3 linked regions of the Homo sapiens genome follow. The protein of the gene in region 1 interacts with the protein of each later gene in a biochemical or structural test. Each region holds a gene or a part of one and is shown on either strand. Other genes may lie near its edges.

What was found. Proteins that work in one complex are often made in the same cells at the same time.
Region 2: the proteins of PPFIA1 (region 1) and ERC2 form a complex in vitro, tested with the Homo sapiens proteins (one study listed by BioGRID).
Region 3: the proteins of PPFIA1 (region 1) and PTPRS form a complex in vitro, tested with the Homo sapiens proteins (one study listed by BioGRID).

The regions. Positions count from the first base shown.
Region 1 is NC_000011.10:70,371,217-70,379,044, reverse strand, and holds part of PPFIA1 (liprin-alpha-1), read right to left. Parts: intron 6,853-7,828; exon of another isoform or gene 6,834-6,852; coding exon of another isoform or gene 6,831-6,833; coding exon 6,655-6,830; exon of another isoform or gene 6,569-6,654; coding exon 6,471-6,568; intron 4,128-6,470; coding exon 3,952-4,127; intron 2,514-3,951; coding exon 2,445-2,513; intron 1,016-2,444; coding exon 850-1,015; coding exon of another isoform or gene 842-849; exon of another isoform or gene 574-841; intron 1-573. UniProt on the Homo sapiens protein: May regulate the disassembly of focal adhesions. May localize receptor-like tyrosine phosphatases type 2A at specific sites on the plasma membrane, possibly regulating their interaction with the extracellular environment and their association with substrates.
Region 2 is NC_000003.12:56,465,468-56,473,821, forward strand, and holds the start of ERC2 (ERC protein 2), read right to left. Parts: upstream 3,001-8,354; 5' UTR 2,781-3,000; intron 1-2,780. UniProt on the Homo sapiens protein: Thought to be involved in the organization of the cytomatrix at the nerve terminals active zone (CAZ) which regulates neurotransmitter release. Seems to act together with BSN. May recruit liprin-alpha proteins to the CAZ.
Region 3 is NC_000019.10:5,211,813-5,219,226, forward strand, and holds part of PTPRS (receptor-type tyrosine-protein phosphatase S isoform 1 precursor), read right to left. Parts: intron 6,987-7,414; coding exon 6,975-6,986; intron 6,721-6,974; coding exon 6,608-6,720; intron 4,956-6,607; coding exon 4,908-4,955; intron 3,784-4,907; coding exon 3,686-3,783; intron 3,601-3,685; coding exon 3,477-3,600; intron 2,925-3,476; coding exon 2,749-2,924; intron 2,669-2,748; coding exon 2,549-2,668; intron 680-2,548; coding exon 525-679; intron 439-524; coding exon 153-438; intron 1-152. UniProt on the Homo sapiens protein: Cell surface receptor that binds to glycosaminoglycans, including chondroitin sulfate proteoglycans and heparan sulfate proteoglycan.

The DNA of each region.
Region 1 (7,828 bases):
GACGACCATTTTACAGATGGGGAGACCGAGGCCAGGGTAGTTAAATGACTTGTTCAGGGTCATGCACCTCCTAGTGGCAGAGCTGGAGTCAAACCTAGGCAGCCTGGCTCTTCAACCTGTGCACTGCCTTTCATTAGATGAGTACAAGGGCAGAGTTGAGAGACCTGTAAGGAAGCCATGGTCAACTGTTAACCTCAAATCAAAGTGGCCGTCTAAGGGAAAATCCCAAACTGCATGTGAAATCATGGCAGTGATGCTCTCTCTCTGGCTGGTATAGTCAATAGCTGCCTCGCTCCACTGGGGACTTCTTGGAGGTTCACCTTCCTCCCTTCCCTGCCCTCTAATGGGTAGACATGTGACTGCACGGAACAGCAGCAGCAGGGAGGGCAGAAAGCATAGGCAGAGCTCACACAAGCTGGAAACTGTGTGTTCTTAAAAATGTACTCAGTTATTTTCTCTGGTGTGGAGAGCAGTAAATTATGTGGTTTGGAAGCTACTACTACACTACTATTTCCTGAAAGAGCTTTCTAGCACGGCCTGTCACAGACACAAATTTACAAGTATGCCTCAGTCTCTCTCTGAGAACACAGACGAATACTGAGCTTTATTAGTTGGAAAAATATGCTAAGATTCAACCAGACAAGCGTGTTTTAAAAATTCTATTATTATGGTTAAACTTTTATAAACAAATGTTAGAGTTAATTTAAAAACATTTATATTTGGACATGCAACCATACTCAAGTGCCTTGTAACATATTAAATAGGCCGTTTTAGATCATTATTAATGTTCCAGACAGAAAGCTGCTCATGCTCCCAACAAGTGACAGGTTAGTGTGACCCATCACATACCGTCCATCTGCATCTTCTTTGGCTGCATAGAGGGGGAAGACATAGAAGAAGTCACCCGGAAGTTTGCAGGGAGAGTCTCTGCTGACCCAGCAGCTAAGCCACGAATGTCCTTTGGTCTAAACTTTTTTCTCCATGAAGGTGCTCTCCTAAAGCTTTTATCATCATCCTGGTAAATTAAGGAACAAAAAACAAGATTCATTTAAAAAATAAAGGTCAGAGATGTAAAGTTACATGTCCTTTAAAATGACTGCTGATCTCGAGAATGTATTCTTGTCCACATGTATTTAATCCCTTCTTGATGACCACACAATATATTGCCCAACCTGGAACTTCAGCGTGAAACGGGGCATGGTGATGGTCCGGCTGGGCCTCAGCTGGCGAAATGAGGTCGGTGCTGGGCCATGAGGATGTGCTCCTTCTCCACAGCATCATGTTCTACTTCTTACACCTTGCAGGAATCACTTTCTTGCAACGTAATACGTTTTTATTTATCTTAAAAATAGTTTATTTTTCATTTTTATTTATGTTTTTACAGACAGAGTCTAGATCTGTTGCCCGAGCTGGAATGCAGTGGTGTGATTATAGCTCACTGTAACCTCAAACTCCTGGGCTCAAGCCATCCTCCCACCGCAGCCTCCTAAGTAGCTGGAACTACAGGTGTGCCCCTACCACACGCAGCTCTACAAACAATTTTTAACTAGAAACAATTTTATCTTATGCCAGGATATAGCAACAAGTGCTTCATCTTTAGAGGTGGTCTTCTATTCTCTCTGTCAAACTCAACTTTTCTTAAGGTCCAATTAAGAGACTCCTAATCGTGTGGAACAAATGAGTCATGGTTTTAAGGGGAAATTAACATTTTGTGTTTTTAATATACTTCTGAAACATGCCACCCCACCCATGCACAGGAGTATGGGGGTACACTCTGGACTGGGGTAGGATAACTACTGGTCCCCAAAACCCAACTTACAGACTCTGTTCCTAAGCTGCAACCAATGTTTTATGATGTGAAAACCATTTTTGAGGGATGTCAAAAATTAAATAGCAAAAATAAAAACAAAACTACCTTCTTGAAGGTATTACTTTTGTGGGTTTTTTTTTTGCGGGGAGGGGGTTTCTTTTTGAGATGGAGTTTCTCTCTGTCGCCCAGGCTGGAGGGCAGTGGTGCGATCTCAGCTCACTGCAACCTCCACCTCCCAGGTTTAAGCGATTCTCCAGCCTCAGCCTCCCAAGTAGCTGCGATTATAGGCACCTACCACAACGCCCGGCTAATTTTTGTGTTTTTTAGTAGAGATGGGGTTTCACCATGTTGGCCGGGCTGGTCTTAAACTCCTGACCTCTGGTGATCCGCCCGCCTCAGCCTCCGAAAGTGCTGGGATTACAGGTGCGAGCCGCCGTGCCCGGCCCAGGTATTAGTTTTTAAAGGCTCATTTGTGAATAAATGTATAAGAGCAAAGCCTGACTTCTAACATCCAGAGAGACTGCCTAGCTACATGATGTCCCAAGTATAATAATAATAACAGCTTACATTTCACACACATTTAAACATTTACACACATTTCAGACATTTAAAGAACATTAGGCCAAAAACTTACTTCATCAAACCTTCTATCAGTCCCCATGACCAAAAGGTTGTTAAATTCTCTTTCCAAGACAGCACGAGCCTGAAATAACCAAAGAAAAACAAATAAAACTTTCATCAAATCTAATTTGAAGGGTGTTAGCATCGTAATTGTTTTTTAAACCAAGACTTAAACTCCCTCACTGCTGGCTGGGTCTGGTGGCTCACGCCTGTAATTCCAACACTTTCGGACGCCAAGGCGGACAGACCACCTGAGGTCAGGAGTTCAAGACCAGCCTGGGCAACATGGTAAAACCCCGTCTCTACTAAAAATACAAAAATTAGGGCCTGGGTGTGGTGGCTCATGCCTGTAATCCCAGTACTTTGGGAGGCCGAGACAGGCAGATCACTTGAGATCAGGAGTTTGAGACCAGCTTGGCCAACATGGTGAAATCCCATCTATACTAAAAATACAAAAATAAGCCGGGCACGGTGGCGTGTGCCGGTAATCTCAGCTACTTGGGAGGATGAGGCAGGAAAATCACTTGAACCTGGGAGACAGAGGGTGCAGTGAGCCAAGATTGCACCATTGCACTCCAGCCTGGGCAACAAGAGCGAAACTCCATCTCAAAACAAACAAAAAAACAACTCCCTCACTGCTATGACTACATTGAACCATAATAATATTTTAAATCAGGGCATCTAATGTGGAGTCAATGGATGGGCTTTTGCAGAAAGGGATCCATGATCCTTGGAGTCATATTAACAAGGGTGTGTTGTGTGGGTTGGTCAGGGGTATTGGCCAAAGATATTCAATTTTTTTTTTTTTTTTTCCTTTTTCTTTGGGATGGGGGTCTCACTCTGTCACTCAGGCTGGAGTGCAGTGGCGCAATCAGAGCTCATCACAACCTCCACTTCCCGGGCCAAGCAATCTCCCTGCCTTGGCCTCCCAAGTAGCTGGGACTACAGGCATGTGCCACCACACCTGGCTAATTTTTTTGTATTTTTTTGTAGAGACAGAGCTTCACCATGATGGCCAGGCTGGTCTCGAACTCCTGGACTCAAGCAATCTGCCTACCTGGGCCTCCCAAAGTGTTGGGATTGTGGGCATGAGCCACCTTGCCTGGCATATTCAATGTTCTGTAGAGGAATAAAAGTTCCCTGTTTTTCAAATGAGCCCATGAGTCAAAAAGAATGGCATAAGGCAATTACCCATAAAAACAAAATTAATAAAATCTTCATGTGGCACACCTAAAAACACTTCTCTTTCCATGTAAGAACTAAATATATGTCACTCTTCTGATCAGGCACATGGGCTGGAATGAAAGATCGTCCTTATCTGGTTTATTGCAGGACTCTCATGCTTCCAACAGAAAAGGGAAAGCCAATAGACCAAAAAAAAAAAAAAAAACCAAAAACTAGTTGTCTGAAGTTTTTTTTTTTTTTTTTTTTTAAAGTTTCTTTCTATTCGAATAACTAGCTGTCTATAATCAGGGTGCCAACTGAACAATGAGTGCAGACACAGACAGGTTTGGCGTCACCTGTGTGTTCTGCGTCGGGATCTGTAACAGCAGTGCCAGTGCACTGAAGTCGAAGGTTTCATCTAAGGCCAGAAGTGCTCCGTGAACACCACTCTCTATAAGATTGTTTGCATATTCTTTAAGGCCAATTGACAGGATCCAGCGAATCACTCGATCATTGCTCCAAACAAGCACGTCTGCAAAAGAATAAAGACAATTATAAAAGTGGCTTCAGAAAGCCATCTTTATCACATGTACCCTGTAATGCAGGAGAAAGATTCCTACCATGGTTCCTAATCCTTCGGCTCCTGAGAAAAGTGCTGGGAGACACTGCTAAATAGACAACCATTTGCTGCACTGAGACAATGGTGTCCTGGCCCTGCTCCACTCTCAGGGAGACTCTCCCATTAGAACTCATCCTTCCAGTGAGCACGAGAGGAATGAAGTTATTATTTCTAGAGAAAAGAAGATGATGAGGATCCAGGGATCAGAAGCCAGAGGACTGCAAGAACTTGAATACCTAACATGTATAAACATGCTTCACACACAGACTGGAGAGTCTTCTGAAATACTTCATCACGGATGGAGCTGGCTCCATAATAATATGAACACTTTGCTCAATTCAACAGAAACCTCTCATTTCTAATCTCGAAGTCTTTGTCTCATTTTAAAATGAGAGAAACTTAACAATATCATCCAGCACATTAGAGACTTTGCAGAAAATCTTTTTTTTTCCTCTCTTTTTCTTGACAATGTCCTGCTCTGTCACCCAGGCTGGATACAGCCTGGTACCATCATAGCTCACTGCAGCCTCAACCTCCTGGGCTCAAGTGATTTTTCCCACCTCAGCCTCCTGAGGAGCTGGAACTACAGGCGTGTGTCACGAAGCTCAGCTAATTTTTTTGTACTGACAGGGTCTCACTATGTTCCCCAGGCTGGTCTTGAACTCATGGGCTCAGACAATACTCCTGCCTTGGCCTCCCAAAGTGCTGAGATTACAGGCATGAGCTACCATGCCCAGCCACAATATCTTATGCAAATTAACAAATTATTCAATTTGCTCTATTAGATCTAAAAATAGCCACTCTAAAAATATATGCAGATGATCACCAATCACTTCCAAAGACACTTCCAAAGATCTTTGTCTATTGGAAAAAGATGTAAAATAGATACAGAAAACAAAACAGATGGACATATTTCATTGCCAATGCCCTTTTCTGGATAAAAGTCCATACATATACACACACTGTATAAATGTCGACTTACGACTTTTCTCCTGATTCACATTAACTCAATCACAAGTAGACTTCCCTTCAACTGGGCCATCTCCCAACCATATTTTTATCCTTAGTTTCTTTCTTAGTATAAAGTGGGGATGAAAACAGCACTTAGACTGACAGGGCTAAGGTAAAGATGAAAGAAAGCAACCCCTGAGTACTTAGAACACCACCTGGCACCTACTCACTGTTAGTAAGACTGGCCTCTTCTTATCATTATTGTTATTGGTGACTTCCTTGCATTCCAGGAATTCTGGGAGTCATTACTCTGAGCTTAATGTTTACTGTCTAATTTTAAAAGCAAATTCTGACTGGGTGTGGTGGCTCACACCTGTAATCCCAACACTTTGGAAGGCCAAGGTGGGAGGATCCCCTGAGCCCAAAAGTTCGAGATCAGCCTAGGCAACATAGCGAGACCCTGTCTCTACAAAAAAAAAAAAAATTCCAGGCATGGTGGAGCACACCTGTACTCCCAGGAGCTACTAGGGAGGCTAAGGCAGGAAGAGCACTTGAGCCCAGGAGTTCAAGGCTGTAGTGAGCTGTGATCACACCACTGCACTCCAGCCTAGCCTGGGCTACAGAGCAAGACCCTGTCTCAAAATAAATTAAATAAATAAATAAACAAACAAACAAATAAATTTGAGTACGAGTGAGGGACTCCCCAACGGAGAAGAGAACCAACTCCACGTCTTCTGGATGAATGTCTCACATCCTCTAACGCCTCCCTGGCCTGTGTTTTCCAACTGAAATGCCTTTTCCTTACCCTAAGCAGCTCCTCCTCCTTCTTCAAGGACCAGCTGAAATGCAGACGCTGCCTCTCCTTCCCCTCCGGGAGCAGAACTGCACGGTGCTCTCCTGTTCTCCTGAACCCCTTGGATAAGCCCCCAGTCATATTTCTCACACTTGAATCATCAAGTGAGCTTTGCTCTGTTGTTATCTAACAGTGTGGAACAGCATTTCGGAGTGAAGGAGTACACAGGGCATGACCAAAGGAAAACTCTCAACTCACAGGAAACGACTAGCCGGAGACATTTAACCTCCAGACTGATGTGTGAGAACACAGGGAACAGTTCTCTAGCTGTGGAAGAGAATCTCAAAAGCACTCAACTTCATCCAGCCCTCCTCTGCAATGACACTAGACTAGTTAGTTTTCTCCACTTAAATTTAGCCTTTCTTGATTTTTTGAAAAATAGGAAGTCACTGAGGCTCCAAACACACCAGCAAGTAGGAGTAAACCGAATCAATTAAATGTCATGTACTAACCTTTTATTTCACTCTGACTTTCTTCTCTTTTTCTTTCCAGTTCTTTCCGGTCATAATTTAACCTTCTCAGGCACATAATTCCACACTGGAAACTGTTTCTATTTGGAAGAAAAGAGAGATGATTTAGAGATGGTAACAGTGAAAAATCTTAGCCAATTATTAAGAACTATCTCCATTAAGTTACCTGTGAAAACTGTCGACCATTTTCAGCTGCCCTCGAAGGTCTTTCTTGGTCAAGTGGTCCAGCATCCTGGCGTCTACAAGGCACTCCATGAAGTAGCTGCGGTACTGGGGGAGGCCCAGGCTGGGGAGCCACTCGTTGCCGATCCACTCGTGGTTCATGTCCCCATAGGCGAGTGTCTGCTTTTCATAAATGGAAAAGGTCAGTTACAGAGGAAGTCTCAAAAGTAGTTTATATCATTTTTAAAATGAATTTTTAATCTATTACCTATATTCTCAAAGGCTAAACTAATGATAATTTTATAATTGCAAAATAATTTGATCTCTTCTCACCTTTTAAATTTGTTAGTAAAATTTTTATACAACAGGAATAGTAACATGAAAAATATATGATTCGTTGTGATAAATTTAACTTTTAAATCAAACTACAAAAAAACTGTAACTGGCTATAAATTTCCTCTCTGAGATAGTTTTTAGTATAATAATGTGACAAAGATTGATCACGACTCATGAACAAGTTTGAAGGCTCAATTCAACACTGCTCACTAAAATTATCTCTGGTTGGTTTACATTTTAACACTTTGTTTTCCTAAAGAAAAAATCCATTTCAAAATCAGTAAAAGTCAGTTAAAATATAGTTTTAGAGAAGAGATAAAGCAACAACCAACAGGACTAAATGGGGAAACAGGCAAATTCACAATTATAGTTGAAAAAATTCAACACTTCTTTCTCATAGCAACTGATGAAAGAAGCAAAAAAAGAAAAAAATTAAGAATATAGAAAACCTAAACTAACAACCCTTAACAAACTTGACCTGACGTTTCATAGAACACACCACCCAACAACAGAATATAGAACACTCCACCCAACAATGGAATGTAGAACACGCCACCCAACAACAGAAGATAGAACACGCCACCCAACAAGAGAATACAGAACACGCCACCCAACAAGAGAACATAGAACACGCCACTCAACAACAGAATATAGAACAATCCACCAAACAACAGAATATAGAACACTCTACCCAACAACAGAATATAGAACATGCCACCCAACAACAGAATATATATGCTTTTAATGTCTGTATAGTATATTCTCAAAGACAGACAAATCTCAACATACTTAAAGAGACTGAAATCAAGGTACATTCTCTTGACTTCAACAGAAATTAGAAA
Region 2 (8,354 bases), on another chromosome or scaffold:
ATACCTAATCACTAATGGAAAAGGGTCTCTGTAAATAACAAAGAAAATAAAACCCTAATCCCTTGGTGGGGAGACAACTGAAGGATGTTAAGAGCATTTATTCAACCAAGATCTATTTAAAACTCTAATTGGAAATTTAAGGTGTCAAGAAAAATGGAAGAGTGTGAATTTTGTTTTGTTTTACCTTCTTTTAAGTCATCATCATTAAGTTTGGAACCAAATTTTTATCGAGCCAAAATTTTTATTTTATTATGTGTTATATTTTTTATATTTTATTATGTTTCTACTGGAAATATATAATAAACAGAGTTACTAAATTTGCCTATTGGCCCATGCCACAGCCTTCAAATGCAAAGGCAAAACAGGCTGATAAAAGGACTGTCAGAATCACAGTGGACTCTTAAAATGGTTAGCTCTACGTATGCTGGGAGAACCCACACTTCAGACTGGACACATGCAGACTACACAACCAAAATTTGAAGTCAAGGCCACGGCCAAGGTCATGGGCTCTGGGTAAGACGAACCCGGGCTCAGGTTCTTGCTTTCATACTAAACTGTGGCAAGATACTGAATTCCTTCTAGTTACTCATCTATAATTTGGGCGTAAGAATAGTACCTACCTCACAGGGGCTCCACAAGGTTTAAAAAAGATAATGCATATAAAGTACTCAACAAAGTGCTTGCCTATGCAATAACAATGATGATGATAGTAATAGTAATAATACTGCTTTGACAAACCCGGCTTCTACATGAAAACCATTCTAATCAGTATATTCTGGCTCACAGTCTGTTTATGAAAGGCTTAATTCACAGAATTATGTTCACATCCAGGTACAACTTCTATAAAGTGACAGCTCTTTGGATCAATCAGTAATTTTTCTAATGAATTCAGGGAGAAGGGTGTTGAAAAATCAGGCTTTCACTAGTAGTGAGTTGAGATGGATCTGGTCCTTCACCCATGATTCATCCACCCGTGAAAGTCTTGCTGGTGAAAACCATGACACCATCACCTTCCACACCCCTCCCTGCCAAAACTGTAAAAGTATTTTATTAAAGCACAGAAGCAAACAGACAAGATGGCTTACATGAGAAAAAGGCAAACTCTACTACTCCCCGGAAAGAAAATGGCTTGACCCCACCACCACCGAACTGACATTCTGCAAAAGAGAACAAGGCAGCCCTCACTTCCAGAAGTTGAGTTAACTGTCAGAACTAAAAGAATCCCTTCTATTCATGTGACTCCCCATAAAGAACGTTTGCCGGCTCCAAAAATACCTTATAAATCCATCCAGTAGAGCCAAGCCCCAAGTACTGTATACTGAGAAACAATGTGACTTTACAAGGACAAGAGTGACCATAGGAGACAAAGTGCCACACCCTTTTCCCGGATAGCTCAACGGTACATGTTGTCTCTTATAAAGACTGCAATTCTGGAGAAATAGGTGGGCAATTCTAACACCCCCTCCCCCAATTCCTTCTTTACACAGATTCATTTTCATTTTTAAGCCAGTGGCCTCGGCATCCGCAACTACTACAACTAATAATCAGGGGGGTGGTGGGTAAGGGATGGGGAGGACAAGGAAACACAGGTCAAATATACTTGCTTCTAAAAGTCCATTTTCAAAGAGTTTTCTTCCCGCTTGTCTGCCTCTCACAGCTGTATCCCCATACCAGGTGGAAACCAATGGTTAAGTAAAATCACTGATTTAAAGAGCCAACCAGGAAACTAACCATGACAAGTGGGAGCTGCCCTCCTCTCCCGAGCATTGATTGGTTCTTTGGGTTCCACCGGTCCCCATTCTACCCACGTAAGTGGCAGGTGTGGCTGTCAATCACAGAGGGAACCGACAATTCACCGCTCGGGGAGTAAATTGCCTTTCATACAGCAAAGGCAGGTAGCCGCCTAAAATCGATCCACTCCTAAAAGAGCGGACCCTCCCTCTCTGGCAAGGAGAACAGAGACCCTTAAGTACAAAATAAATAAGGCAGGGCCGAACGGAGAGTTTACGAGCGCTATTTTATTACCCCGAACCAAAGCAGCTCTTAATCTTCACTGTCCTAAGACGATCTTTCAAAGGCTCGTACGGTATTTTTTTTAATTAGGTACACCTTCGTAAGTATCCCTTTTTTTGTATAATTAGGAGATGGGGAGGAGGAGAGAAGGGATGCCGTTCAGTTCAATTTCACATCGTATTCCTTTTCATACACCATCCCCTAGCCCTCCCCGATAAATCGGCTTCATTTTCCCTGACACGGGTTTTTTAAAAAAAAATATGCTCCCCTCTGAACCCACCCAGGCGGCCAGCCACCCCACCCCCGGGCGGGGGCTCCACCTTTCTCCACTTTGTTCTGCTTAGGATTGCTCAAGACCCCCGACCCCGCGAACACCCCACCCCTCGAGGCAAGAGGGGACGCCAGGCAGAAGAGGGGGATCTGAGAGAAGAAAGGCGATGGCAGTGAGGGTGGCTGCCGGAGAGGGACTGCGGGAGGTGGCCCGGGCAGCCGGGGCTAGCGAGCGGCGCCCGCGCGCTGGAGGAAACCGTGCACTTGTTCCAATCCGGGGGTTTATACATCAGGGCAAAGCCTCCCTTAGGCCGCCCCATCCCTCCCCCCGCCCAAGAAAGCCCCGTAGGAGGCGGATGGTTCACCCTTAGGCTCCCCACGATAACGCATTGCAGCTCCCCACGAGCGAGGGGGACCCGGCACGAGGAATGCCCGGGCACGGGCGCCCCGAGGGAGCCGGGCACCAGGCGGCCCCGGCCCCGGCGTCGGCGTCTCACCTTTCCGATGCTCGCCCCGGGGCCGTCCCACATGGATTTTTACAACCTCTCGTCGCCTTGGCCCCGGGCGGCCAGGAGGAGCAGGAGCCGGCGCCGGAGCCGGAGACCGAGCGAGCAGGAGCGGGAGGCGGAGGAAGAGGAGGAGAAGCGGGGCGGGGAACAGGGAGGGAGGAAAGAAGGGAAGGAGGAGGACACTGCTCGGAGGGCCAGGGCCAGGCGCGGGGCCGGGCGGGGCCGGCGGCCGAGGGGGCGGCACCCGCCGCAGTCCCGAGACGCGCGCTCGCGCGGCGCTGCCAGGCGCTGCGCTCGGCGGGGCCCCCACCCGGCCGGCCGGCACGCTCGCCCGCTCGCAGAGGCCCTGACTCACATTCCCAGCATTCCCGAGGAGCCGCTAGGGGGGACGGGGCTGGGGCCCGGGCGCCTCCGCTGGGGGCAGCAGAAAGCGCCCGGCATGGGCGGGGGTCTTCGCAGCGCCTCCTCCCGGCAGGCCGCGGCGCGAAGCACCTGTCCCCAATCTTCCATCCCCGACGCCCCTTCCCGGGTACCCCCCTCCAAAAGCTGCCAGGCACACTGGGAACTTGTCAGGTGGCTTTGGTGACAGGGGCAGGGATGGCACTTATCTTTTAAGTTAAGCATTGGAGTAAGGGGTCGTGGTTACCATACCCTGGCACCGTCCATCAGCTTTAATGTTCCTTAGGAGGTTGAAAGAATTTCATAAGATCTTCACTTTATTGTTCCCCCAAAGAAAGGACAGAATGAAAGATAAAGACAGGAACAAGAGAAAAGATCGCATCCGTCATATTCACTGGGTGCCTCTTCTGTGCCCTGAAATGTGCTTGCATTGTCCCAATTTAAGGTAGAAAGATGATGTCTGAGTTGATACGCGCGCACACAGGCAGATACACACACACACCTCAAGGTAATGAGCAAGAGGATTTGGACAAGTTTTTCATTGGAAAAAGCTTCCACTCAACAAGTCTGGAGCCCCAGCTGCTGCCATTTTATATTAGGGAGGGTACTGGGATAGCCATGGGCATCTTTAAACTTGGTCTCTTTCACTGAGTAGTCAATTTGCAGGGATAGAGCAGTCATTTCCTTCCTGTCCTGATGAGTCTGCTTCCAGCAATTTCAGTGGCCAGATCTAAATTTCTCCTGCTGGGAAGCTCAGACAAATAAAGCAAATCCAGCCATGGGATGTTTGGGTGCGCAGAGGCATAGAATTAGTACAGCGATTAGAGGATGGATCCTTCTTTCCTCCCCGATAGGAATTCAATTTTTTTTTTTTTTTTTTTGGAGACAGAGTCTTGCTCTTTCTCCCAGGCTGGAGTGCAGTGGTGCCATCTCAGCTCACTGCAACCTCTGCCTCCTGGGTTCAAGCAATTCCCTGCTTCAGCCACCTGAGCAGCTGGGATTACAGGAGTCCATCACCACGCCCAGCTAATTTTTGTATTTTTAGTACAGACGGGATTTCACCATCTTGGCCAGGCTGGTCTTGAACTCCTGACCTCAAATGATCCGCTGACCTCAAGCTTCTCAAAGTGCTGGCGTTACAGGCGTGAGCCACCGCGCCCCGCCGGAATTCAAATATTAAATGATTCCTGCTCAGGGAATCAGACTCTGAGAGACAAGGATGCCTTCCTGTTCCAGCCCAAATGCCTGTTCCTTAAGCCTGTACACCTCTGGTAGCTAAGGTTTTTCATAGACTCTCTTTGCCCTCATCCTCTTCTTTCTCTCTCTGAGAAATCAACACTCATTCTCCTGACCTAGATGCTCCAGGGGCAAAACCAAGCTCCACCTATTGTGTTTTGTTCCCCACATACATCCTTGACAGCCTCTGCTCAAAAGGCTTGTTGTATATGAGAGCCTTGTTGAGAGTCCTTTGAGAATTCCTAAAATCCCACATCTTTTGAAACGTGGCCAACATTTTTTAGTACCCCCCTCTGTGCAGGCACTTACATTTTCTCAACTATTCTCACAAATATTCTATAAGATGTTTACCAACTTTCAGAAAAGTTGGGTAACATACCAGGGTGATCCCATGAAGAATTTATTTAAATCAATGCCTGAGGTTCACTCTGGTTGGCCACCCATTCTCTTTTCCTTTGATCCGTGGGTTTTAAAAGGAACCCTTGACATTCAGGGGATCAATTTATTATGTACATGCTTATGTACATTTTTCCCACAGAGAGAAGATTCATGGTTCTCAACAGATTTCTTTCAAATTGGGTCCTTGACCCAGAAAAGTTAAGAATAATTACTTTAAATAGAAAGTGACTCTACATAGTAAAACGAAGAGTGGAAGTTATAGGAATCTTAAGCAAGTCATCTTTATCCTCTCTGGGACTTAGTTTTCTGAAAATAAAAAGCGGAACTAAAGAATCTTAAGATTGCTCTCAACTCTAACATTTTCTAACTTTAGGTTAAAATACACATATATGTGTGTATAGGTACACAAATACATACACAAACACACACACACACAAACAAACACACCCTCGCAATATGCTAACAAGTAGCCATTGTGAGATCTAACCCTTCAGGACAGAAAATTCTAAAACATATTATATTTTCTAAAACATGGTCTGTTGCTCCAGGGTTTTTTGTTGTCGTGGTGGTTTGGTTTGGTTTGTATTGTTTTGACAGTTATTGATGTCTTTCTTCATCTTCACAAGCTCTTTTCAAGCAAGTCAGAGAGAGCATACTTTCATGGCAGATATTTTTTTCTCACATATTCATTCATTCATTCAACAAATACTTATTGAGCATCTACTTTCTCCTAGGTCCTGTGGGTTCAGAGCCCCTGCCTCAAGGACTGTACAGTTTAGTGATGGAGACAGACAAGAAGCAGGCAATAACAATACTGCCTATGAAGGGACAAAGTTCTGGGAACTGCAGGAACATGCAGGAAGGATAACCAACTGTTCCCCTGGGGTTCAGAAAAAGTTTTCCTGAGGAAATGTCAAATTTGCTGCCACATCCAACTTTGCTGCCCTATGGTGTGCTCAGCCTGGAGTGGCAGCTATCATAGATGGGAGCTGTGGTGGACACCTGCCCCTGGATGAGCCATGACAGGCTCTCCTTCCAGTATTTCAAACTGAGCTTGAAGAATGAGTCAGTCAGCTGGCATTGAATGGTGAGATTGTAGACTGTGGTGGCCCAAATTAGAACAATGGCACCAAAAACCATGATGCCAAAGTCATCAGGAAGTAAGTTCTAAGATCCTTGCCAAGGAAGTTGGTCTGTAAAGAGGAGAACAGCCAGCCATGTAGACAGAAATGAGATTTCTAAAGACCTAAAGGCCTTGGATATCTACCTGCTTATTTGACTTCCCCAGTGTGAGTATTTAACCCACCAGTATCTCAAACTTGATTTTTATGCACCAAGTCTCCTCTCTCCCAAGGTCACCCATCAGGATAATGACATCACCAATCATCCTGTTGCTCAGGTCCAAACCTAGGAGTATCATTAATTCTTCCTTTTGCTTATACCACACGTTTACACCATCAGCCAGTTCTATCAGCTTTACTTGGGGCTGAGCCAAGCCATATCAAACCCTGAAGCAAAAGAAAAACTCTGTACCCGTACATATTTTTTGAACCAAATAGAAAAAGTTAAGCTCTACAGTGAAAAAGCATGACTATATATAAAAGCACCGTAATGCCCAATCAGTTTTCCTATGATTGTCAACCCTCACAAGCCTGCCAGTGTGGGAATATGAGAGCCAAGTGGCCTTGGAACTGAGCACAGGTTGGAAACAACTGTTCTTCTTGCACAATGATGCAGGGTCATAAAACAACAACCTGTGTTGGTTTTGTTTTTGTTTCTTTGGGTTTTTTGCATTCATTTTGAATATAGTAACAGCAACAAAGAACAAATACCAATTAGACAAAATCAGTACTATGTGCGAGGCCCTGTTCTAAGCTCTTTGTGTGCATTAACTGACTTATTCCTCGCAATTGACCTAAAATATACCATTATTACACCTATTTTACCAACAAAGGCACTGAGGCACCTCTAGGTAAGGTAATTTACCAGGGCCACACAGCTAAGTCATCGCAGGGCTGAAATTCTAACCCAAGAAGTCTGACTCCAGAACAAACGAGGTAAAATAAACTGGACTTGGTGAGCAATTGGCTATGTGCAAGAGAGAGGAGTCAAAAATGTTCCCAGGAGTCTGGTTTGGGCAGCTAGGTGGATAGTGTGCCATTCACTAAAACTGGAAATAAAGGTTGGGGAGGAGTACAGGTTTATGGAAAGTTTATAGATCATATGGGAAACCCAATTATGAACAGTTTATGGGTTCAATTTAAGGCTTTTCGTATTTGAGATGCCAAGGACCTCATGGTAGAGATGTCCAGAACATGGCAGTTTCAATGTGCTTTGAAGTCAGACAGCAGATACTTGATGAAGACAGTATATGAGAGTCACCAAGTTTGGTGATTAGAGTCCTGGGCATAGCCGAGTAACCCAGAACAGTCATTAGCATGTCCACAGGAAGAATCTAGTTGAATAAGAAACAAAATCCCTAAACAACTTATAATTGTCTGTTCTTCTTAGGCATGAGGTCATTTGCGCAAGTCTTAACAGGGTAGATTTTAGCTCAAAAGAAACATGATTGAGCTGCCACTTTAAAACAAAACAAAACACCTAATTAACTGACCCATCACCACAACAGTTGGACTGGAAAAAAGTCACCTGATCCTTTGGAAGCCAACAATTGGTGCCGTTAAACCATTCAAATTATATTTGCCAGAAATGTTTTAAGACCTTTGTAGGTTTTAAGCATCATAGCAAAGATATCAAAATCCAGCACCATCAAAAGTATATATTTTTTTGGCTGTGCATGGTAGCTCACATCTGTAATCCAGCACTTTGGGAGGCCAAGGCAGGAGGATCACTTGAGCCCAGGAGGTCAAGGCTGCAGTAAGCTGTGATCACACCACTGCACTCCAGCACAGGTGACAGAATAAGACTCTGTCAAAAATATATATATATTTATACACACACACACATGCACACACACACATTTGTTTTTCTGTGAAAATGCTTGAAAGTTTTTTAAATTATTTGAGCAAGAACCATTCATTTTACTTACTTGTGGCTGTGGTTGTCCAAAATCATTAAGCATACTCAGAGACTATTATAAGGTGAGAAGAAAATCTAACATACAGTTGTTTGCAAATGAAAGGAAATGTTTATAAATATGAAAACCCATAAAGTTATATTTTGTAGACATTTATTAAACATTTAATTCTCAATTTATAATTTTCTGTAAATCTGTCATCTCAAGGCAGGCAAGTCTTTCAGGGCTTTGCAAAAATGTTGATTAAATGTTCATATAATGTAAAATAACATCAATTTCTTTAGTTCCTTGGCTTCCAATAACCTCATTTCCTGACTTTAATCACTCATGAAGTCTGACCCCCCCCTTGCTATCCTTGGGTTCCATGACAGGCCTCTATGTTTTTTCAGTAGATACCTTCTTTTTTGTTTGTTTGTTTTTGCCTCCTTAAGTATCTTTAGTGAGTTTCTCTTCCTTGCAACCACAAGTACTGTCGGAATTGAAAGTCAGCT
Region 3 (7,414 bases), on another chromosome or scaffold:
GCTATGCTTTCAGCTGGAGCACCAATGGTGGATAGGTAGGTAGGGGCACCCTGCCACCACCTTCTAGTCCCCATTGCTCGAGGCGGGCCTGATTTTCGGCTCTTTGGGCCTCCTCCCCACCCCGCCCACAGCAGCCTCCACCCCGCTGGCACCTTGAACTCGAGTTCCATGCCAGTGACGTGTTCGCCAGGCTCCACCTGGGCCAGCTTCTGGATGTAGGCATAGAGGCTGCGTGCGGGCACTTCTGTGTTGCCACAGCCCACGGCCTCCAGCAGGGCCTCGTGGATGAAGCTGTACTGGTCCTCCGTCTGCACCATGTAGTTGCGCTGGGACCTCATGAGCGTCACGTGGCCATAGACATCGACTGTCTTCTCTGGCTTGATCCGCTCAAGCATGGCGTCGATGACGATAAAGCAGCCTGTGCGGCCCACACCGGCACTGCAGGGACAGCCACGTGGCGTTCAGGGGCTGCTGGGCTGCGGGGACCGGGGGGAAGCGGATGGGGCAGAGTGGGGTGGACGTACCTGCAGTGAACCACGATGGGGCCGGCATCTGGCGGGTTGCAGGTCTTGACTCTCCGCAGGAAAGCCAGGAAGGGCGTTGGGTATTCGGGCACGCCATGGTCCGGCCACGCCGTAAACTGGAACTGGCGGACCTCGCGTTTCTCACTGGAGCCATTCTGGGGACCACAAGGATGTCACCTGTCACTCCGGCTCAACCTGCCACCCATGTGCTGAAGATGCCCAAGTGGCCGGGTGTGGTGGCTCATGCCTGTTATCCCAGCACTTTGGGAGGCCGAGGTGGGCGGATCACCTGAGGTCAGGAGTTCGAGACCAGCCTGACCAACATGGAGAAACCTCGTCTCAACTAAAAATACAAAATTAGCTAGGCATGGTGGTGCATGCCTGTAATCTCAGCTACTTGGGAGGCTGAGGCAGGAGAATTGCTTGAACCTGGGAGGTGGAGATTGCAGTGAGCTGAGATGGCGCCACTGTACTCCAGCCTGGGTGACAGAGTGAAACTCCATCTCAAAAAAAAAAACACCCATGTCTGCGCCTCCCAGTCACCATGTCCCCAAGTGCCTGACTTGGGCTCTAGCTGGCCCTGGACGGTTTCCAAGTAGAGTCTTGCGGACGCCTCACACACAACGTGGCCAACTGTATCTGGCCTTCTCCCCAAACCTGCTCCCCCGTCTTAGCTGAAGGTGGCTCCAACCTTCTGGGCACTCTGGCCACAGCTTGGGAGTCACCCTTAACTCTTCCCCTCTCACATCCAACACCTCACCCGGGACTGTCGGCTCTGCCTTCAAAGTCTATCCCAATCCACCTGCTCCATGTTCTCCATGCAGGCCAATCTGGTCTAGACCTATCACCACCCTCTTTGCCGCAGACCTTGGCTCCCACCCAAGCCCCCCAGTCTGTCCTCCCTGCAGCAGCCAGAGGGCACCTGAGTCAGATCTGGTACCTCCTCTGCCCACAGCCCTCCATGGCTCCTGCCTCCCACAGGGTCAAAGCCAAAGTCTTCCCCAAGGCCCACAGGATCCTGCATGACCAGGCACGGTCCTGCCCCAGGGCCTCTGCCCAGGCTGCACCCTCTTACCTGAAATGCTGTCCCCCCAAATCTCCCCATCATACCCTCTTCCAGGTCCCTAACACTGTTTTTCTCCTCCACTTTATTTTTCTCCTTTGACATGTAAGCTTTCTTGACATTTCATAGTTGTGGTCTGTGTCTTGTCTACTAGACTGTTAAATCCCCCAAGGGCAGAACGTTTTGTCTGTTTAGGTCCCTGTTGTGTGCTTGTGTCCAGGTTAGGGAGTGAGATATAACATATGCTTAATGTATAACATATGCTTAATGTGTGTGATTGAACCAAGAATTCTCACTCTTGTCCATGTACTCAGTTTTCTGGCACTTAGGTCAAGCAGGTGCCTGACGGTGAGATGACCTGGCTGGGTGTTGGGGATACATCACGGTGCCAGTAGCACCTCCCCTCCCCATCATGACAATAACAAATGTCTCCTGGATGGCAGAATTGTCCTAATTCAGAACCACAGATGGAGAAAAACAGATGGAACCGCACTATGGACAGCAGCCATCAGTTAAATACATATCTAAAAGATCTTCTCCATCCCAGTCCTGACTTTGCAGGGCTGCCAATATCTGTCCATCTCTGTCTGGAGACTCCTTGAAGGCAGGGCTGGGGCCCTGCTGAGGCCCCCATCATAGGCTCAAGCTGGGTGAGGCCAGAGGACAAGTGGGCAAAGAGGACCTGGGGCATGAGTAAAGGCAAGAAGAAATCAGGCTCATTGCTGAGTTGGGCTCTGCCGGCTTTGTTCTCCTGCCGTGGGTGGAAACAAGCAGTGTCCTCTCTGAGCCTCAGTTTCCCCCTCCACGGAAGTGGGTTCCATGAGAATGTAGTCAGCCTGGGTAGACACGCTCCGCTTTCTCTCTGTCCCATGGGGAGCTCCCTGGGTAGAAGCTGGGGCCCTCTGCCTCCCTTCCAACACATTCCTCCACCCTCAGCCCCCAGCCCCAGCCTGGGCCCCACCTTGTGCAGAGAGAATGTCCTGACGCAGAATGTGGCCAGCTCGATGGTATCTAGCAACGTGACCTGGATGAAGCCGTAGGTCTCCGTGCCTCTGTTGGGCCAATACTGATCACACTTGATCTGTATCGGGCAAGAGAACAGGTGTCAGCAGGGACAGGCTGACTGGCAGGGGCTTGAGGGCCGTGGGGTCCAAGGCTCACCCGTGACTTCTCCTCCAGCCGCGTCATCATGACGATGGTCGCCGACCGCTGCTCCCACACCATACGCCAGAAGTCCCCAAAGGTCTCAGGCAGCGGCCCCTGCGTGGCAATGTACGCGTTCTGACACCGGTAGCCGTCCACGTAGTTGGCATTGATGTAATCACTGCCCATGATGCCTGCAGCCAGGGCGAGAGGCCAGGGATCTGTGGGGGCTGTCTTGCTAGTTTGGCTCTGTGTGGCCAACCACTTCCTGGAAGTTCACTCTGACCGCTCCCAGATTGTCCCCAAGGTGACCATGGGACGTGTACTTCACAGTTTCTCCCCCTCAGCGCCATCACCATTTGGGGCCAGATCGCCCTCTGTGGCGGGGCCATTCTGGGCACTGCAGGGTGCTGAGCAGCATCCCTGGCCTCCGCCCACTCCACGCCAGCAACATTTCTTCCCTTCAAGTTGTGACAACCAAAGATGTCCCTGGACATTGCCAGATGTCCCCTGGGCAGCAAAACTGCTCTGATTGGTCACAACTGATGCAGAAGGACAGATGAAGCCATGTTAGAGAGAGCAGCCATCAGTTAAATACATATCTAAAGATGCCCAGTGGCCTCCAGTTGGAGCTGGACCAGGTCTATGACCAGAATCAGGCCTCAGTGGCCCAAGGGGAGACATGGGATCTAGCACTTTCCATGCAGTGGGGAAGGGCAGGTTAAGACCCGGGATCTCCGAACTACCTTCAATGGGCTGGAGGATGACACGGGAGTGGTCATAGGCGATGACGTTGGCATAGCGGTTCTTCGGCTTGTTCACTTCCAGGTTGGAATGTTCCCATGTGAACTGCTGTCCAGGGTCGATGGACTACAGAGGAAGGGGAGAGCGCGGGTGTCAGGGTAGGTGCCTGTGAGGCCGAGGTGATGAGGGTGGGAGGCGGGGGTGGGCTCACCTCATACTCCTGGGAGAGCTTGAGGCTGTCGTTGGCCTTGAGCCGCTCCGTGTGCTCCGCCATGTCTGCGATGGGAATTGGCGGGTGGCTAAGCATGCCTACAGGGTGGAGCAGACCCCGCCGGGGTTGGTCACTTGGGGGGCCAGCCGGGGACTCGGGGGAGGGGGGTGATCTACGTGTGAGTCTGCGATGGGTGAGCTGTGGTTAGAAGGGCATGGCCGGGGTGGGGCTTGGCAGGAGGGGAAGACTCAGGGTGGCTCATGAAGGGGCTGGGACCCCAGGCCTAGGGGACTCTAAAGGCAGCAGGTTTGAGGCCCTCTGCTCCGTGCAGAGGCTGACACCCCTGGAGGGGCCTGGATCACAGCATTGGCCCATCCTGTTTCCTTCCAACCAAGCTGGGGGTGCAGGGGCTGGCAGAAGGGTCACCCCAGAGGATGTCAAGCTCCCAGTGCCTCGAGCCAAGAAGCAAGTGTGTGGCACAGAAATTAAATTGCAGACGCAGCCGGCTGTGCTTTGGAAATACTGTCCTTGGGTGGGCGACTGACACCCCTTTCTGTCCCTCTGGGATCAGAGGCACGAAATCCGCTTCCAGGTAGAGGCGACAGACTAGGGAGGGGAAACAGTATGTGTGTGTGTACGTGAGAGGAGTGAGGGGTCCCCATCTGTCCCTGCGCTTGCTTGGGGCAGGAGCAGGTGCAAGAAGGCCCTGGCCTGAGAGCTCTTATCCTTTCAAGCCCCCTAGGATGGCTGCCGAAGGTGCTGGGTGTGGGCTCGGTTCTCCCTTCCCGATATCTGGGTCTGCAGAACCCTGACCTCTCCTGGGACCTGTGTACCGGATGTTCAGCTCTCAGGTGGTTTCCAGACCAGCTGGTAACATTTAATGTTCTGAGACTTCCATGTGTCCCTAGCTGTCCTGGGTGCCCCCCAAGAGCTCACATCTAAGGGGCCTGCCTGTCCTGTGGGCACGTCCTGGGTACATACGTGCCTCACCCACATCCCTGACACACACATACACACCACACACACAGCAGTCACACACAGCCACCTGAGGGCCCAATGGACCAACCCCCTGCCCTCTTCCAGGAGCCAGCACAAGACAGGTGGGCAAAGGCCGGTGATGGGTGGGCGTGTGGACAGAGACAGGAGACACGATGGAGAAACCAAAGAGGAAATGAACGGGGGCGGGGGCGAAAGGAAGCCAAAAACAGACACAAGAACTAACTTTCAAAGTGAAACCCCGGCTCCCTGAGGGGGCTCCTGAGGCCTGAATCTGCAAACAGCAAACAATAAATAAATGAAAACATGCAGGGGGTAGGGGGGGGTCCCACCTCTGCCTCCCCCACCCCTCACTGGCTGGCGGATGCAAAGGGCAGAGCAACGCGGACAACGGGGGGTATGTACAGCCACCTGGGCCCCCACCTGAGGACTCACGATAGCTGCTAACTGTGTACCCCTCTGGCTGGACACCAGTCAATCCTGGTCTTGACCCGTCACTCTGGAAGGACTCCAAAGTGCTAGGTTCTTCTGTCTACAGATCCCCTCCCCCAGACCAGCCTGGCCTTGGGTCCCCTCTGTTGAGGTCAGCAGAGGGCATTCTGAGGAAGGAGGATGCAGGATGGTGAAGGAGAAGCTGGGGGAGCAGGGAAAGGACATATGGGCCCATGCCATGAGCTTCAAGGAGGACAGCAACCATCAGTTAAATGCACATGTTGAAAATCCTTATTTGGATGGAAACACAACAGACATCAGCTAGTCCAGAGACAGAAATGAGATGGGAGCACATTAGCGGTGAATTGTGAGACTCTGCATGATCCCTTCAGGAGACTGCAGCCGTCAGTTACATGCACATTTAAAATTCTCATTTGGCTGAAAAACCAAAGCAACACGAATCAGTACAGAGGAAAGAAAGGGAAGAGAATACACGAGGGGTGATACATGAGGCCCTGCATGATCCCTTTATGAGGACAGCAGCCATCAGTTAAATACTAATGGTCAAACTCCTCATTTGGATGAAAACAGAAGTGACACAAGCCAGTCCAGAGACAAAAAAAAAGAAAGTACATCAGGAATGGCATGTGAGGCTATGCATGAGGCTTTAAGGAGGACTAAAGACATCAGTGAAATACAAATGTTTAAAATCTTCATTTGGTTGGAAAATAGAGTTGATATGAACCAGTTCAGAGATACGAAGTGGAGACCGGGTACAGTTGGAAGGACAGATGTAACTTGGCTGTGAACCCATAAGGAGAATAGCAGCCATCAGTAAAATGAAAAATTCCTTATTTGGTTAGAAGCAGCTGGCATGAGCCCATGAAGAGGGAGGAGATGGTAGAGTTTGTGAATCATACATGAAAATGATCAAGGATAAGGCCTTGATTCAGTTCTCCTGGACTGTCAGGTGACTTTAATCTACAGGGAACTATAAAGAGGCATGAACCCTGGCAGCCATGGTGGGAAGAGGTACAGGGCATTGGGCAGGTATAATTTCTGTACCTTGCTAGGGATATATCCCAAGGGAGTGTGGAAAATGGCTGAGGGCAAACCTCAACTCCCACCACCGAGGAACATTAAAACCAGAGACATAAACAGAAGAATAGCTCTTTCTGCCCAAAGAAATGAGGGGTTTATTTGTGTTTTCTCCATTTTTTAAACATCGTCTTTAGGCTCCTGAAGAGGACAGCAGCCATTGGTTAAATGTTAACTTTAAAAAAAAAAAAGCCTCACTTGGTTGTAAGCAGAACCAACCTATGAGTTCCAAGCCCAGATCCATGTAGGGTTGGAGGTATTTGGGAATCCAGAATGTGGCTGCACCAAGCATAGTTCAGAGGGGGCCAATGAGGGGCCCCCAGGGTGGCAGCTACTGCTTCTCCCCAGCTATCTCCCCTGTTGGTGGCATCCCTGGTACCAGGGATAAGTACATACCTGGAGTCTGGAAGTTAATGCGTCTCATTTCCACAGGGTCCTTGGGGTGGTGAGGGGCGAGGTCGGCATTGTTCAGGAGGCATTTGGTGCGGGGTTCTGAGTCCTTGCGTTTACTTTAGGAGAAGCAAGCGGAACAGTCCAGTTAGTAGTGGCACATGTTCATGTGTGAACACAATTCAGGCCCCAGGAATGCATGGTAAGAAAAGGACCATGGACCCGTATGACTAGGGTTTCCAGGACCAAGTACAGCTACGTGTACAAGCTGTGGGGGCAGCCGGGCATCCCCTCTCCTGTGGGCACACTATCAGCCCATTCCCTGTCCTCTTCCTCTTGCCTGAAGCCTCCACGGGGGAGGGCTGGTTCTTACCTGTCGGGTTTGCTGTTCCCGAAAGCAGACACAGGTGAGAAGGGGGAAAAAAAGAAGAAAGGTGAGGGTGTGCCGGCCATCAAGGGCTTGTTCTGTGACTCTCAGTGCCTTCCTTAACCTCTGTGAGCTTTGGTCTCCTCTGGAAAATGGTGCTCATATTTCCTGTTTGTCCCCCTGCCTATCGACACCACAAGGAGGCTTATCTCAGCCCTGGGATGTGCCCCATGGGGCCACTACAATTGCTATCCTCATTGAACTGGACACAGGCAGCCTCTACCCCAAATCTTGCTGAGTTGAAGATAGGGGTTAAGAGGAGAAGCCAAGCCACTGGCCTGCTTTGAGCCCTAGCTCTGCCATTCCCATGCTGTGTGACCTTGATCAAGTGGCTTAACCTCTCTGAACTTCGGTTTCCCCATGTGTACAACAGAGACCTTTAGTGA